2 separate regions of the Homo sapiens genome follow, and region 2 is linked to region 1. Evidence: fine-mapped expression QTL. Tissue or cell type: ovary. Region 1 holds a variant in brackets; the other region holds the start of a gene. All regions are shown on one strand. Distances are between the middles of the regions.

Region 1 (8,260 bases):
GAGAGCAGCAACCTGCATCTATCTTGGAAAGGTGGAGAGAGAACTGCAGTGACCTCATTGGGGAGGAAGGGGGAGGTGGCAGGGCAGAGGAAGCAGGGGACAAACAGGAGGAAGAGATGGTGCCCTGGGTCAGGTGGCCGCCACTGCTACCATCAATGGAAGTGGAAAACTCTTTGCCTTCTCCTTACACCTGTCACCATGACACGACACCCCCATGCTTTCTGCCCACCGCCCCCACCTTCTTTAGTAAAGGTGCTGGCAACTAAGGAGCAGAGTCTGATTTGAAGTTGCCGAGGAAACCATCATGGGCAGCTGTGAAACCATCAGGCTTGCCCAGCAGGGAGCTCAGGTTCCCCAAATTGGATGAGCAAATCAGTTTCTGCAGGCCTTGCTGTCCAGGCAAATAAGATGAGGGCAGGGCCATGTGGTTGAGGTGGGTCTGAAACAGGACTCCCAAGGGCACAGGCCCTGCCCAGCCTTGGCACCCAAGGCAGAGCTGGTCAGCCCTGGGCCCCTGTGGGCTGCTATGGCCACCTCCCTTCAGGCGCTGCTGCCCCCACAGAGACGGGCAACCTCTGCAGGTCGCTGGGATTCCAGAGGTGCTCAGAGCCTCCAGATGCCTCACGCAGGCCCTCTCTGCTGGTTCCCCAGGGGCCTCAAAGCGCTGGCCCAGCCACCAGGACACTCCCCTGAGCCTCTCGACCTTCCCGTGGATCCTTTGGAGCCTGGGTTTTGGAGTTTGTCCTTCCTAAAATGCTGCCCACCTGAATGTGGCTGACCCAGAACCACCACTGACCAAGTGCGGCCACGTCCCCTGCAGGCCACCCATCAAGGGCACAGGCAACAGGTGCCCCAAGGGGCCGTGGCCCGTCCTGCCCAGGGCTGACCCTCGGGGTAGGGAGAGGGCACTAACTCGGGTCCTCTACCCTGCCTCAAGGCTCTTTCCTCACCTGGGGGGAAGGGCTTCCAATCCTTGCACCTCAGGGGCCTTCCTGTTTTACTGATGCCAACAAATGAACATTGATCATCTCCCATGTACAGGGACAGAGAAGACAGACAGGCTGGCCCCGGGTGGGTGAGGGAGACTAGTCTGTCAGAGCAAAGACTCCCCATGGAAATAGGGGCTAAGAAGGAAACACCAGGAAAAGTGAAGGTGGAAGATGGGGTGACCCTACTGCAGATGGGGTGCTCAGGGAGGGTTTCTCTGAGGAGGTGACATTCACTTGATTGGTGTATTAGTCTGTTTCATTCAGCTGATAAAAATATACCTGAGACTGGGAAGGAAAAGAGGTTTAATTGGACTTACAATTCCACATGTCTGGGGAGGCCTCAGAATCATGGCAGGAGGCAAAAAGTACTTCTTACGTGGTGGCAGCAGGAGAAAATGAGAAAGAAGCAAAAGCGGAAACCCCTGATAAACCCATCACATCTCATGAGACTTATTCACTATCATGAGAATAGCTTGGGAAATCATGGCCCCCATGATTCAATTACCTCCTCCTGAGTCCCTCCCACAACACATGGGAATTCTGGGAGATACAATCCAAGTTGAGATTTGGGTGGGGACACAGCCAAATGATATCAATTGGCAAAAGGGAAGGGCAGGACCTGTGAAAATCTTCTAAGAGAGGGAACAGCAGTGCCCAGCAGGATGTCCCGGGGGTGGAAATAGGGCAGTGGTTGGGGGTAGGGAGTGTAAGCCAGGCAGGCAGAGCCCAGACACGGTGTGATGCGTGTAAGGGTGGGACCCACGGAAGCTCTAAGAAAGGCCTGGGCCTCAGAAGACAGGGAAACAGGAAGACCCACTTACAGGCCTTCACAGCTTTCTAGGGCACAGACAGTGCAAAATGGCTCAGGCCAGAATGTAGTTTAGGTTTCAGAAGGGTGCTGGGTCCCTCATGCTCTTCTTGAGGCTAAAGGGCTTCAGCTCCTTGAGCCATTTCCAGACATTGTTCTGGGGCCCCGGCTACACGGATGGCCTTCTGATGGTTGTTGTCTGCATCCAGGCAGGGGGCATGAGCTGACCTGCTCCTTCCTTGGCTAAGTGGAAAGATGAAGGAAGCCTCTGGGGGCAGGATTGCTGGACTGGGAATTAGACTTGGAGTGTAATCCAAATGCCCCACAGGCCCTGCCTCTTCTCTGGAGCTTGGCTTCATGTAAACTCGGCTTCATGTAAACTGGGGGACAAGGGATGGCAAGACCAGCTCGCAGGACCCTTGCCCCTCCCCCCTGTGATGCTTCCAAATGGTCTCAGGGGCCACCTTTTTCAGGAAGAATTTTCTGGTTATTGAAGAATAAAGGAAGGAGGCCAGGCGCAGTGGCTCACGCCTGTAATCCCAGCACTTTGGGAGGCTGATGCAGGCAGATCTCTTGAGGATGGAAGTTTGAGATCAGCCTGGCCAACATGGTGAAACCCCATCTCTACGAAAAATTCAAAAAAACAAAAGTAGCCAGGCATGATGGTAGGTGCCTGTAATCCCAGCGACTGGGAGGCTGAGGGAGGAGAATGGCTTGAACCCAGGAGGCAGAGGTTGCAGTGAGCTGAGGTTGCGCCACTACACCCCAGCCTGGGTGACAGAGCGAGACTCTGTCTCAAAAAAAAAAAAAAAAAAAGAATAAAGGAGGAAACATGTTTTGAATGGCATTTATATCAGGCTTTAGACTAGGTGTTGGTTTGGTGGGGTTTGCTTTTTTTTTCTTCCTCCCTTTCACAAAACTTGAGTCCTGTCTAGGGCCAGGAGTTAAATTACAGTTTCCAGATTTTCTTTCCTTTTTTTTTTTTTGAGATGGAGTCTAGCTCTTTTGCCCAGGCTGGAGTGCAGTGGCACAATCTCAGCTCACTGCAACATCCGCCTCCCAGGTCTACACGATTCTCCTGCCTCAGCCTCCTGAATAGCTGGGATTACAGGCATGCGCCATCAAACCCGGCTAATTTTTGTATTTTTAGTAGAGACGAGGTTTCATCATGTTGGTCGGACTGATCTCAAATCCCTGACCTTGTGATCTGCCTGCCTCGGCCTCCCAAAGTGCTGGGATTACAGGCGTGAGCCACAGCACCCGGCCTAGATTTTCTTTTCTTTTCTTTTCTTTTTTTTTTTTTTAGACGGAGTTTCGCTCTGTCGCCCAGGCTGGAGTACAGTGGCAGGATCTCCACTCACTGCAAGCTCCACCTCCTGGGTTCATGCCATTCTCCTGCCTCAGCCTCCTGAGTAGCTGGGACTACAGGCGCCCGCCACCACGCCCGGCTAATTTTTTGTATTTTTAGTAGAGACGGGGTTTCACTGTGTTAGCCAGGATGGTCTCAATCTCCTGACCTCGTGATCCGCCCGCCTTGGCCTCCCAAAGTGCTGGGATTACAGGC[G/A]TGAGCCACCACACCGGGCCCTAGATTTTCATCATTGTATGTAGCACAAGACAGACTTCCAGGGGACCCATGGATAGATTATTAGCAAGTAAATAAAAGATGATTTAGCTAGAGAAAATGTAGCAAAAAAGCAATCAGGATGAGGGGATTAGGAATAGCAGAGGAGGAGCTGGGGGAGAGGGAGTTGGGGGTGGGGCTGGGACAAACAGAAAGGAGGTGGGGCAAAAGGCCAGGGAAATCAAGTCCCAGAGGTCAGCAGGGACCAGAAACCACAGTCTTAGTGGGGACTCAGGACAGCAGAGCAGCAAGCTGCGTCTACCTTGGAAAGGTGGAGAGAGGACTGCAGGGAGCTGAGGGTGGAGGAAGGGGGAGATGGCAGGACAGAGGAAGCAGGGGACAGACAGGAGGAAGAGATGGTGCTCCGGGCCAGGTGGGGTGGAGGGGCCCTCTGGTCTCCAGGAGTCTCTAGGCTGCCCTTCAGCTCACCTATAGCTTTTGATAGGCCTTTGGAGGCCACAGGGTTGCCAGATGCCCTCTTGACTTTTGAATCCTGTTCCACTGACCCTGGTAGCAGCTTGGACATCTGCGTCCTCTGCTGAATGCCTCTGGGCCAGATGTGCTGGGCAAATGGCAGCATCGGCATCTTGCCCAGTTCTCACCCACAGCCGTTGAAGTCTACACGTGGTCAACCTGTCACAAGGTTTTTAATGTTCTTGAACCTCAGGGCCTTTATTTTCTCCATTCTGAATGCCAGGATTCGACATGGACCCTCTCAGGTGTTTTGCCATATGCAACACATTCTCATTGACTCTGGTCACCCTGCTGTGCACTAGATGTCAAAACCTCTTCCTCCTTTCCAACTGAGACTGTGGTTTTTTGACCGACAAGCCCCCATTTCTTCCCTCTGCCACCCCTCCACACACCACTCCCAGCCATCGTTCACCATCGACCCACTCGCTATTTCTATGAGGTCAACTTTTTTAGATGGACACTTCAGGGACATCACGTGGAATGTGTCTTTCTGAGGTGATGCAGATACTATGTAGTGTGATTTTGTCATTCCATGGTGCACACATCTATCTAATCCCCGCACTGTATCTTATAAATGAATACAAGCATGATTTGCCAATTAAAATAATATTAAGAAGAACATAATAAATGTAATAAAACACAGGAAGTGTAGCTTGACTGCCCCACCCACTTGGTTTTTGTCTGGGCCCAGCTGTCCATTGGGTTCACTGGTGCTGCCTTATTTCTCCCTTTGACTTTTTTGTGCTAGTCAGAAACAACATAATTGCAGCATGAAACTGAAACATCTTTTGCCCATGGTAGCCATGGCTCCTTTTAGTCACAGAGATTGAGGTTATACCATCCAGCTTCCCGGGGGTTCCCTCAGACCAAGCCACCTCTTCTGGGTCTTCCACATGGAGCGAGCCGACTTCCCAGTGGGTTCCCAGAGACAAGGATCCTTCAGGTTTTCCCCATGGCTGCTGGTGCTCTGGGGAGGGTGAAGCCACAGACTTATGCTGGGGGGCTTTGCTGGGAATGGCTGGCTTCATCTCCAGGCCAAGTAGGGTTCTGCCCTAACTCCCAGGATGGTGTTCATGCTTCTGTGAATTAGAAAGTGGGAAAGGTCGGCTGGTTTTGAGTCCTCTTCTGGGTTGGACAGGGAAGGTTGACTTAACTGTGGCAGATGGGGAAGGACAGATGGGATCCCCGGGAGGGAGGGATTGTGCTCCGATGTTGGAGCCCTTTCTCCTCTGCACTTTTCTGAACTCCATGATTAGGTAGGTGGCCATGGGATGATCATATATTTTTTTAATATCACTTCCTCGATATGTTCTTCCTAGAATCCCATGGCCACTATGAGCTGGGTTGTTGGGGGGCCTGGGTAGTCCAGGAGTGGCTCTCTGTATGGCTTGAATCATGTCTTCTGGTCACTATTGACCCAGGAGTTCCTCAACAGCTGGTCCAGTGGGAGCTGCTCCCTGGGGTTGAGTGTGAAGAATTTTTAAATATTTTTTTCCATAAAATGAATAAAAAAGTAGCATACTATTTTAATTTTTTTTTTTTCAGTATATCCTTACAGTTCTGCTCATAAAATGGCAGGGCCCCAGCCACCATTTTGCATACGATGATGCCAAGGCTCCAAACGTTGATGGCAGGGCATTGGTACCCATGGCCCAAGAAGAGTTCTGGGCCTGCATAAGGGAGAGTCCCATCAAACGTTCCCTTTTCAGTGTTGTCTCTCTTTGCAAATGTTGAACTAAACCCATAGTTGGCTATTTTGATGTTACGTTCTTTGTCAAAGAAGATATTAAGCTTTGTTCTGACCCCAGGAGAGCTCTTCCCACCTGTCTTTTTTTCTGTTTCTCTCTGGCAGACTTGCTGGCCTCCAGTGTAGCCCGCACCTCCCAGGCTCTCCGTCGCCTCCCAGTTGCCTTTCAGCACAACCTCCACTGTTCTGGAGAGTGTGCTTAGCCTTGGACTTCTCCGAGCTCTGTTGCACATGAAGTCAGTTCCTTCGGGAGCAACTCGCACCTTTTGTTTTCTGTCTGCTGCTTTCTCAGGCAAACTCTCTGAGCCAGAGCTATGGTGCTGGGCACAGTGGTGCATTTCTCTCTGGTGACACCTGCATGTTAGGAGCTGGGCCCTTGGTTGTGGGGAAAAGAAAGAGAGATCAGATTGTTAATGTGTCTGTATAGAAAGTAGACATAAGAGACTCCATTTTAATCTGTAACCTTATCCCCAACCCTGTGCTCCCTGAGACACGTGCTGTGTCAACTCAGGGTTAAATGGATTAAGGGCTGTGCAGGGTGTGCTTTGTTCAACAGATGCTTGAAGGCAGCATGCTCGTTAAGAGTCATCACCACTCCCTAATCTCAAGTACCCGGGGACACAAACACTGCGGAAGGCCACAGGGACCTCTGTCTAGGAAAGCCAGGTATTGTCCAAGGTTTCTCTCCATGTGATAGTCTGAAATATGGCCTCGTGGGAAGGGAAAGACCTGACCGTCCCCCAGCCCGACACCCGTAAAGGGTCTGTGCTGAGGAGGATTAGTAAAAGAGGAAGGCATGCCTCTTTGCAGTTGAGACAAGAGGAAGGCATCTGTCTCCTGCTTGTCCCTGGGCAATGGAATGTCTCGGTGTAAAACCCGATTCCATCTACTGAGATAGGGGAAAACCGCCTTAGGGCTGGAGGTGGGACATGCGGGCAGCAATACTGCTCTTTAAGGCATTGAGATGTTTATGTGTATACATATCTAAAGCACAGCACTTAATTCTTTACCTTGTCTATGATGCAGAGACCTTTGTTCACGTGTTTATCTGCTGACCTTCTCTCCACTGTTATCTGATGATCCTGCCACATCCCCCTCTCCGAGAAACACCCAATAATGATCAATAAATACTAAGGGAACTCAGAGGCTGGGGTGGATTCTCCGTATGCTGAACGCCGGTCCCCTGGGCCTCCTTATTTCTTTCTCTATACTTTGTCTCTGTGTCTCTTTCTTTTCCAAGTCTCTCATTCCACCTAACAAGAAACACCCACAGGTGTGGAGGGGCAACCCACCCCTTCATCTGGTGCCCAACGTGGGTGCTTTTCTCTAGGGTGAAGGTACGCTCGAGTGTGGTCATTGAGGACAAGTCCACAAGAGATCCCGAGTACGTCTACAGTCAGCCTTGCGGTAAGCTTGTGCGCTTGGAAGAAGCCGGGGTAACAATGAGGCAAACTAAAAGTAAAACTAAAAGTAAATATGCCTCTTATCTCAGCTTTATTAAAATTCTTTTAAAAAGCGGGGGAGTTAGAGTACCTACAAAAAATCTGATCAAGCTATTTTGAACAATAGAACAATTTTGCCCATGGTTTCCAGAATAGGGAACTTTAGATCTAAAAGATTGGAAAAAAATTGGCAAAGAATTAAAACAAGCAAGTAGGGAGGGTAAAATCATCCCACTTACAGTATGGAATGATTGGGCCATTATTAAAGCAGCTTTAGAACCATTTCAAACAGAAGAAGATAGCGTTTCAGTTTCTGATGCCCCTGAAGGCTGTGTAATAGATTGTAAAGAAGAGGCGGGGAGGAAATCCCGGAAAGAAATGGAAAGTTTACATTGTGAATATGCAGTAGAGCTGGTAATGGCTCAGTCAATGCAAAATGTTGACTATAATCAATTACAGCAGGTGATATACCCTGAAACGTTAAAATTAGAAGAAAAAGGTCCAGAATTAGTGGGGCCATCAGAGTCTAAACCACGAGGGACAAGTCCTCTTCCAGCAGGTCAGATGCCCGTAACATTACAACCTCAAACACAGGTTAGAGAAAATAAGACCCAACCACCAGTAGCTTATCAATACTGGCTGCCGGCTGAATTTCAGTATCGGCCACCCCCAGAAAGTCAGTATGGACATCCAGGAATGCTCCCAGCACCACAGGGCAGGGCGCCATACCCTCAGCCGCCCACTATGAGACTTAATCCTACAGCACCACCTAATAGACAGGGTAGTGCATTACATAAAATTATTGATAAGTCAAGAAAGCAAGGAGATATTGAGGCGTGGCCATTCCCACTAATGTTAGAACTGATACCACCTGGAGAAGGAGCCCAAGAGGGAGAGCCTCCCACAGTTGAGGCCAGATACAAGTCTTTTTCTATAAAAATGCTAAAAGACATGAAAGAGGGAATAAAACAGTATGGACCCAACTCCCCTTATATGAGGACATTATTAGATTCCATTGCACACGGACATAGACTCATTCCTTATGATTGGGAGATTCTGGCAAAATCGTCTCTCTCACCCTCTCAATTTTTACAATTTAAGATTTGGTGGATTAATGGGGCACAAGAACAGGTCCGAAAAAATAGGGCTGCTAATCCTCCAGTTAACATAGATGCAGAT
Region 2 (8,000 bases), 77 kb before region 1:
CACCCACCACCCTCCTCAAGTCTCTCTCCACCCTTCCTCGTGCGGTGAAAATATCAAAGGAGAGGCCATGAGGTATAATGGAAGGGGTCATGGTTCTGGGAAGCAGAGAGACCTGGGTTCAAATCTAGTGGTAGATCTAGTGGGCAAGTCACTTAACCTCTCTGAACCTCTTTGTTTTGTCATCTGTAAAATGGGGATGACAATACCTTCCCTGCAGGTTTGTTGTAACATACATCAGTTCCTGCATCTGAGCAATGGAATATAATACCCTTGCTGGGTAGATATGGCTAAAAATACATCCTATAACAAGTGTTGGCAGGGATGTGGAGAAATTAGAATCCTCCCACACTGCAGGTGGGAATACAAAATGGCATCACCACTGTGGAAAAGCAGTTCCTCAATAAGTAAAACATGGAATTGCCATAGGACCTGCCAATTCCACTACTGGATATAGACCCAAAAGAATGGAAAACAGGTGTTCAAACGAAAACTTGTAGACAATGTTCATAGCAGCACTATTCACAACAGCCAAAAGGTAGAAACAATGCAGATGTCCATCAACTGATGCATGGTTAAACAAAATGTGGTACAGCCAAATGAGAATATTATTCAGCCATAAAAAGGAATAAGTATTGATATATGCTACGGTATGGGTGAACCTTGAAAACATTATGCTAAGTGAAACTAGCCAGACACAAAAGGCCACATATTTTATGATTCCAATGAAATCAGCAAATCCATAATTTCTGCTTGACTAACACAAATTAGTGATTGCCAAGAGCCGAGGGAAGGGGAGAATAGGGAGTGGCTGTGTAATAGGTATAGGATTTTTTGGGGGGGTAATGAAAATGTTCTGGAACTACATAGTGGTGATGGTTACACAACATTGTAAATATTATTAAATGTCTTTAATGGGAAATTTTTTATGTGTATTTTACCACAAATATATACATATATATATATATATACGCATATATATACGCACATATATATACGCAGACATATATGCACATATATATACACACACATATATATATACACACACACATATATATACACACATATATAAATATTTGATGTCTTATATCCTGTATTTAAAGGGTCTGGCACAGTGCCTGGCATATAGGAGGTGATTTAAAAAAGCAAGCAACGCAGGAGCCATTACAAAGCTGGAAGTGCCTCTGGGGTTGTCTTAGCCAATCCCCTCATTCCTGAATGAGGAAACTCAGGCCCGGCGAAGGAAAAGAGAAAATGACCAATGTTACATAATAACAAAACCTTTATTTCTAGTGGGCATCCCAGTTAAGCCTTTTCCACACTTCTATGAAATAGGCAAACCAGGTATTAATATCCCCATTTTACAGGTGAAGAAACTGTGGCTCTGAGAGGTTAAGAACCGACAACCAGGTCTAACTCTGAGCCTTTGCTGACTCCTCTTCCATCTGACTTTGAAAAGCTGGAGGGCTCAGGGCTCGCCTTTCTGTATCCTTCCCATGCCTTTCTTTACATACTGACTATATAAATGGCTTTCTGTATTACATATATTGACTATATAATGGCTTTCTGTATCCTTCCCATGGCTTTCTTTACATACTGACTATATAATGACAACTCTCAAATTCCTGTTTCCAATTCCTACTCTTTTCTGAATTCCAGATTTGTATGGAGTCTACCTGGATGTCTAATGGACATTTCAGCCCAATACGTTCAAAGAACACCACATCCCACCCCTCCCCTAAACCTTCTCGGTTTCGCATCTCACCATCTTAGAAAACAGCTGCACTACTCACCCAGTTGCTCAGGCCCAAAATCTAGTAAGCATCTTTTATTCTACTGTTTCTCTATACCCATAATGAATCTATCACCAGGTCCTATTGTTCTCTCTGCAAAATATACCCAGACTGTGACCTCTTCATCATGTCCTCCACTAGATACCACACTAGCTTGTGTTGCCTTTGTACCTAGATGATGCACTTGCCTCCCAAACTGGTCTCCCTGCTTCCTCCGCCCTTGCCCCTTACAATCCGTTTGCTACATAGCAGTGTGAGTAATCTTTAAAGGTGTAGAGAAGACAGTATCACTTTTTCTGCTCATAGCCTTCCAAGAGCTTCCCATTACACTCCAAAAAAAATCTAAACTCTTTTCTGTAGCCCTCGAGGCTTAAGCCTTTGCCTTCACCTTCTAGCACTCTCCCCTTGGCTCACTCCACTCCAGCCACTTCTCAAATACACCAAGCTCAGTCCCATCCTCTGCCCAATTCCCTCCCTGTCACATAGCTCGCTTCTTCACTTCCTGTCTCTCTGTTCAAATGCCAAACCTTGAACACCTTGCCTCCCACCGTCCTGCAGTCTACCGTGCTTCACTGTTTGTTCTTCATCTGACATAATATTATTCACTTACTCATTCACTGCTTGTCTTCTCTACTAGAATGTGAGCTCCAGGAAGGGGGCATTTTGCTTGCCTTGTTTACTGCTATACTATAGATGTTCAGTGCTATTTGTTGAATGAATAAGTGCTCCCCAAGAGTTCCTAGCCCTACACCAGCAGAGCAGAGATTTGGCGGGGAGGGGAATATACACCCCTTCCCCCAGCAGCCCCTTACCTGTCTTTGTATTTGGACAAATTCTCTTCCTCCCAGGCAGTGTTTCCACCTCCAAAGTTGTCCCGGATGGTTCTCTCCAGGCCCTGGAAACAGAAAATTAGTAATAGCTAAGTACAGTGCCTGGCACATGCTAGCACTTCACTGTTCTACTGACTAGGAAACTGAGGCACAGAAAGGCAACCTGCCTAGGGCCATACAACTAGTAAGAGACCAAGATGAAACTTAAATCCACGCAGATTTGCATCCCAGAGTTCCCCACTCTAAATCGCTGTGTTCCCCTCTAACGAGGCTGCCGGTGCACCCACCTTGTTAAAGCTGTCAACCAGTCCCCGGCAGGTATGACACGGATGGGGCTGAGGCGGGGGAGAAGACTGGGGAGGTGGAGAGGGCTGGAGCCAGATAGGTCCTGGGAGGTTGAGGAAGAGGCTGAGGCCCCAGAGCATAGCTGGGACTAGGCCCTTCGGGGGCCATGGGGCCATCTTTACCCAGGCTGGGGACCTGCAGATAGAGGGCGTGGAGAGGCTTCACTGAAGGAGTCAGGCCCCACGCGAGAAAGAAAAAGGTCTGTTCTAAGGTGCCGTGGCGCTGGGATCTGCGTTATTACAAGCAAAAGAGGCCAAACTGGGTATTGCAGGGGCTGTGGGGATGGGTGGGGAAAGGCGCATAAGATGCAATTCCAGAAGAGAAATAAGTTATCCTCGCTAGCATGGGGTGGAGAGGAAAGTGGCCTCGCTCCTTGACAAGGGGGCAGAAGTCAGCCTCTTGTCTGAGGGTCTGATAAAGAATATTAGGGGCCGGATCCGCAGAATTAGGGAGAAGAGATCAGATTCCAAGTACTGAAGGAGAGGAGGCCAGAGGGGTTGTCTTGGGGGAGGTGTCCGGAACCCCGGGCTTGGAGGGAGGAGCCCGGATCCGGATATGAAGGGAAGGGATCAGATTCAGGGCCTCGCAGAAGGGCAAAGGCACGGCCCACGAGCCGGCAGAGAAGGATCCAGACCCTCGTAGGCCACGGAGAAGGAAGAAGCGACCGCCCCAGCCCGCGGGCGCCGTGGGCCGTCTCCTCACCGCGTCGCTGCCACAGCCTGCGTAAAACGCACAACCCCCACCCGCGCCGCAGTCCAGGGGGCGGAGCTTGCCGCCCAGCCAATGGCGACGGGCCATGTGCCATTACGTCACCCCACGCCAGCCAACCAGAGGCGGCACCGAGCTGCACCTGTCCGGGCTTTAAAGGGCCGCGGGGCTAGGGAATGACGTTTGCCAGCCCCGCCACTGAAACGGAGACGCGTGTGGGCCACATGGGTAGAAAAACAGCGTCTGCCTTTATTTAAGTCCCGTCCCCCGCCCCAGGTCCCGCGCCTGGTCCCACCCCGCGTCCCGGCGCGGGAGTCCCCGGGGGATGGAAGTAGCTATCCAGGGCTGGCTGAAGGGCCCGGGACACTTGCTCCGCTCTCTCTTGGAGCCGCCCGGAACGCGGGGCGCGAGGCTGCTGCAGGGCCCCCAGGAAGTCTGGCAGTTGGGAGGGCAGTGTGAAGACGGGCACGGTGCGGAAAAGGGCGGGTACGGCGTCCGGGTGGAGCAGCCTGTCGAAGCAGGCCCCCACGTAGCTGCCGGGCGCCCGGCCCTGCAAGAAGTCGGGCAGCACGCAGCTGAGCGAGGCGCGGAAGGCGTCGTGCGGGCCGTGCGCCCCGGGCCCGGACACCCCATCCTGTAGCCACTCGCTGCACAGCGCCACCGCACCGGGAGAGAAGAGCAAGACCACCACGCCGCCCTCCTGCAGGGTCTGGCGCCGCTGCGCGTGAAACCAAGCCACGGGCCCCTGCGCGCTCAGTTCACGACGGCTCCACAGGTCTACGGCCACGCGCAGCGGCAGCTGGCACAGGGCCGACGCCAGGGCGCCCACCAGGCGCTCGAAACCCGAGTCATCGGCTGAGTAGAGGAGCAGAGCCGCGCGGCCCCTGGCGGCCGCTGCCGGAGAAAACAGATGGGGAGGGAAGAGGTGAGCTGGCACAGGCCTGGCTCCCCGGGGGCGGCCCTCCGCCCAGCGCTTGCTCCCACTCACCCCCCGAGCGGACGTCCTGTTTCAAGAGCCTCAGCCACCCTGTTAGGGGAGAGGGGCGGAGGCAGCCAGTGAGCTCGGCCGCCGCTTTCCCTCGGAGAACTCCCACAGCCACTCTGGTCCTCCCCCAGGGGAATGGGGAGCCGGGAAGCGCTCACCTTTCGCGTGATCCTTTTTGAGAAGGAGGATGAGGGAAAGCGCAGCGGCAAAGAGTAGGCAGGCCAGCCACACGAGGGCCCAGCGCTTGTGGATGTCTGGGAGACCCAGAGAAGAAGAGTTAGAAACTTACCCTCCACAGAGAAGAAAAACTGAGACTTAACAGAAATGAATTGGGCCGGGTGCGGTGGCTCATGCCTTTATATAATCCCAGCACTTCGGGAGGCCGAGGCGGGCAGATCACGAGGTCAGGACATCAAGACCATCCTGGCTAACACGGTGAAACCCCGTCTCTACTAAAAATACAAAAAATTAGCCGGGCGTGGTGGCACACGCCTGTAATCCCAGCTACTCGGGAGGCTGAGGCAAGAGAATCGCTTGAACTCGGGAGGCAGAGGTTGCAGTGAGCCGAGATCGCGCCATTGCACTCCAGCCTGGGCGACAGGGTGAGACTCCTCTCAAAACAAAACAAAACAAAACAAAAAACGAAGAAATGATTTGCCCAGAGTCCACAGCACAGTGTCAGAGCCAGTGGATGAATATAGCTCCATCTGTTTAGGGGTCTTTGAATAAGTAATGTCACCCTCTGCCTCAGTTTTCTCCTCTGTAAAGTTGTACCTGTGTCATAGGGTTGGTGTGAGGACTAAATATATTAATACATATAAAGCTTAACACAATGTGTTAATACATACTTAACACAATGCCGAGCATCTTAAGTGCTAAAATGTCAGCTGTTTTTCTCCCCTAAGCTAGGGTTGCTGGGCCCTTGATCTTGCTGTCCTGGGTGTCTGCAACTACCTGGTGTCCCTGCCCTGTCTTTTTTTTTTTTTTTTTACCTCCAATTGATTTGCCTTGAATTGATTCATGACAGCCTCAGAGATCTTTTAAAAATATAAATTTGGGCCAGGTGCGGTGACTCACGACTATAATCCCAGCACTTTGGGAGGCCGACGCGGGCGGATCACGAGGTCAGGAGTTCAAGACCAGCCTGGCCAAGATGGTGAAACCCCATCTCTACTAAAAATACAAAAATTAGCAGGGCATGGTGGCAGGCGCCTATTAATCCCAGCTACCCGGGAGGCTGAGGTAGAGAATTGCTTGAACCCGGGAGGCAGAGGTTGCAGTTAGCCGAGATCGCGCCATTGCACTCCAGCCTGGGCAACAGAGTGAGACTCTGCCTCAAAAATAAATAAAAAAATAAGTATATATATATATATATATATATATATATATATGTGTGTGTGTGTGTGTGAAATATATAAAAATTTGATCGTAGCTCCTGCTGCTCTCAACATAAGATCCAAATCCCCTACATGTCTCCTGCATCTTTATCTCATGACAGAAACCTGCCTGTCCAAGACCCTGTATCTCTACCCCCTTCCCCTAGCTCAGTCTTCAGAGTTTTGCTGGAACCTTCCCCCTGAGCCCCTCACCCCTCACCCCACCCAGGTCAGGTCCACATTGTATGCATTTACAGCACTGAACACTTGGTGGTGCTTCAGTAGCTCCCACTTTAAATGTAAGTGACTGGCTCATGTCTTGCTAGTCTTCTAGGGGTGGGGCGGGGGCAAGGATTTATATTTTTGGTGTTCCTGCGATCCCTGCAAGCTCTCATCATTTTTTGAGTGAATGAAGGAATGACCCTCTGTTTATCTGATCTCAGGGAAGGACAAGGCCATTGCATGTGCTGTGCCCAAGAGTGGTCCCTGTCAAGATCCCCACTCCTGGTACAGAAAGGAAAGGCAGTTCTTACAATACTCACATTTGTCCATGGGGCAGGCCCATAGCGCTCCCAAGTCATCGTCCCATAGCTGTAAGATACAAACAGAACCAAATCCAGGGCACCAGCCAGGTGTTCCAATATTCACCAAGCTCTGGTGGCCTGATCTCCAAATTCCCAGCATCAACTATGCATATCTCCCGGCTAAGGTTCCTGCAGCTGCTCTGCCTTTGTGCTGTGCCCACTGACTAGGGTATGACTTCTTCCATACCAAATCTGGCTTATAGGAAGAAATTCTTCCCGGAAGCTCTCCCTGGAACCCAAAACTTAGCACCTGTAGGTGTGGTTATCTGTTTATGGGTGTCTAGCCAACAGTGTGCTCCTTGGGGATAGGAACTGTGCTTCTTCTACTCTTAACTTTCCCAGGGCTGAACATAAAATAAGCCTAAATAGACAGTAGGTGAGTGCTAGTTTTAGGCCTGTTGCCCCTAGGCATTGAGGTGGGGCCCTTCTTCCACCAGCTCACCTGCAGACACTGGCCTGACTGCAGGTCTTGTAGTAAGTACTCTCCAAGGCGAGCTGCCCTCTGCCAAGCCAAAGGATGGGGGCACTGTTACCTGGAGGTAGCACCCTTAGGGCAGCACCTACCAGGCTACAGCTGGGTAGAATGAGGTAGAGGGGACTGGGAGACTTTGGTGATGCCGCTGAATATGGCCCTGGTCTGAGTCACCCCCCATGTTCCCAGAGACCGGCACAGGGTGGATGGAGTGAAAATTTGAGGCCAGATGTGAGATGCATTTGGAGAGATCTGTGGAGGAGGGTCGCCCAGTCCTAACCGTGGAGGCTTTGCTGGGTAGTGAAGTACAGCCACTGGGTTCCAAGGCACAGAGGGATCTGTTGTCCTGGGGGCCTCGTGTCTCCAACAGTAGCACATCGTCTTTGAGAGGCCCCAGGGAGTCTGGAAGGGGTGAGAGGCCACTCTGACCAAGACCCATCCTTGCTGGGATTGGCCACTTGCCTGCCTCCCATGCCCTGACCTTCACCCCTAGGAGGTGGCCCTGCCCCAGCTGCCCCCAGGCCCAACTCACCAGCCCACAAGCACTCCTGCAGCTGCAGCTTCTCCGAGCTGTTCACCTGCTGGGAAGAGACCATGGTTAGGGCCACTAAGAAAAGCAAAAGCCAAAGGCAGAAAGACCAGAATGGGGCAGGCAACAGAAGGCCTGTTGGGTTGGGAATCTGCACTCAATCTGACCTGAGGCAGATGTGGATTCAAGGCTGGGTGATTAGGAATCACTACATCTTTCTCTGCCCCAGCCTTGTGAGATCATCTGTATAAAGCGTCTTCTGACCCTAAAGCTGTTTTTATGTCTTACGGAGCATGGTTCCCCTCTCATCTAACCTTCTCAAAGAGATTCCTTTCTCACATGACCACCCTGCTAAAAATTGCAACCCCAGTCCCACCTTAT

The links. PIP is the estimated chance that this variant, and not a neighbour inherited with it, causes the effect.
Region 2: it holds the start of CRELD1, and the variant in region 1 is fine-mapped to the expression of CRELD1 in ovary (GTEx, PIP 0.96).

The regions. Positions count from the first base shown.
Region 1 is chr3:9,852,313-9,860,572 of GRCh38, reverse strand. It overlaps the pseudogene MARK2P1. Among named protein-coding and RNA genes, the nearest start is that of RPUSD3, 12 kb to the right of the region's middle. RefSeq lists enhancers at 706-1,246, 5,995-6,664. The variant G/A (reference allele first, on the strand shown) is at 3,362.
Region 2 is chr3:9,929,520-9,937,519 of GRCh38, reverse strand. It overlaps CRELD1 (CRELD disulfide isomerase 1), which reads right to left and starts at 3,686. Exons shown (of 11, transcript NM_001077415.3): 1 at 3,600-3,686; 2 at 2,908-3,100; 3 at 2,603-2,685. The coding sequence starts at 3,081. IL17RC (interleukin 17 receptor C) reads right to left here. Exons shown (of 19, transcript NM_153460.4): 13 at 7,623-7,668; 14 at 7,371-7,492; 15 at 7,061-7,120; 16 at 6,577-6,625; 17 at 4,817-4,912; 18 at 4,662-4,700; 19 at 3,899-4,567. The coding sequence ends at 3,927. RefSeq lists an enhancer at 3,275-3,644 and silencers at 3,745-4,074, 4,655-4,714.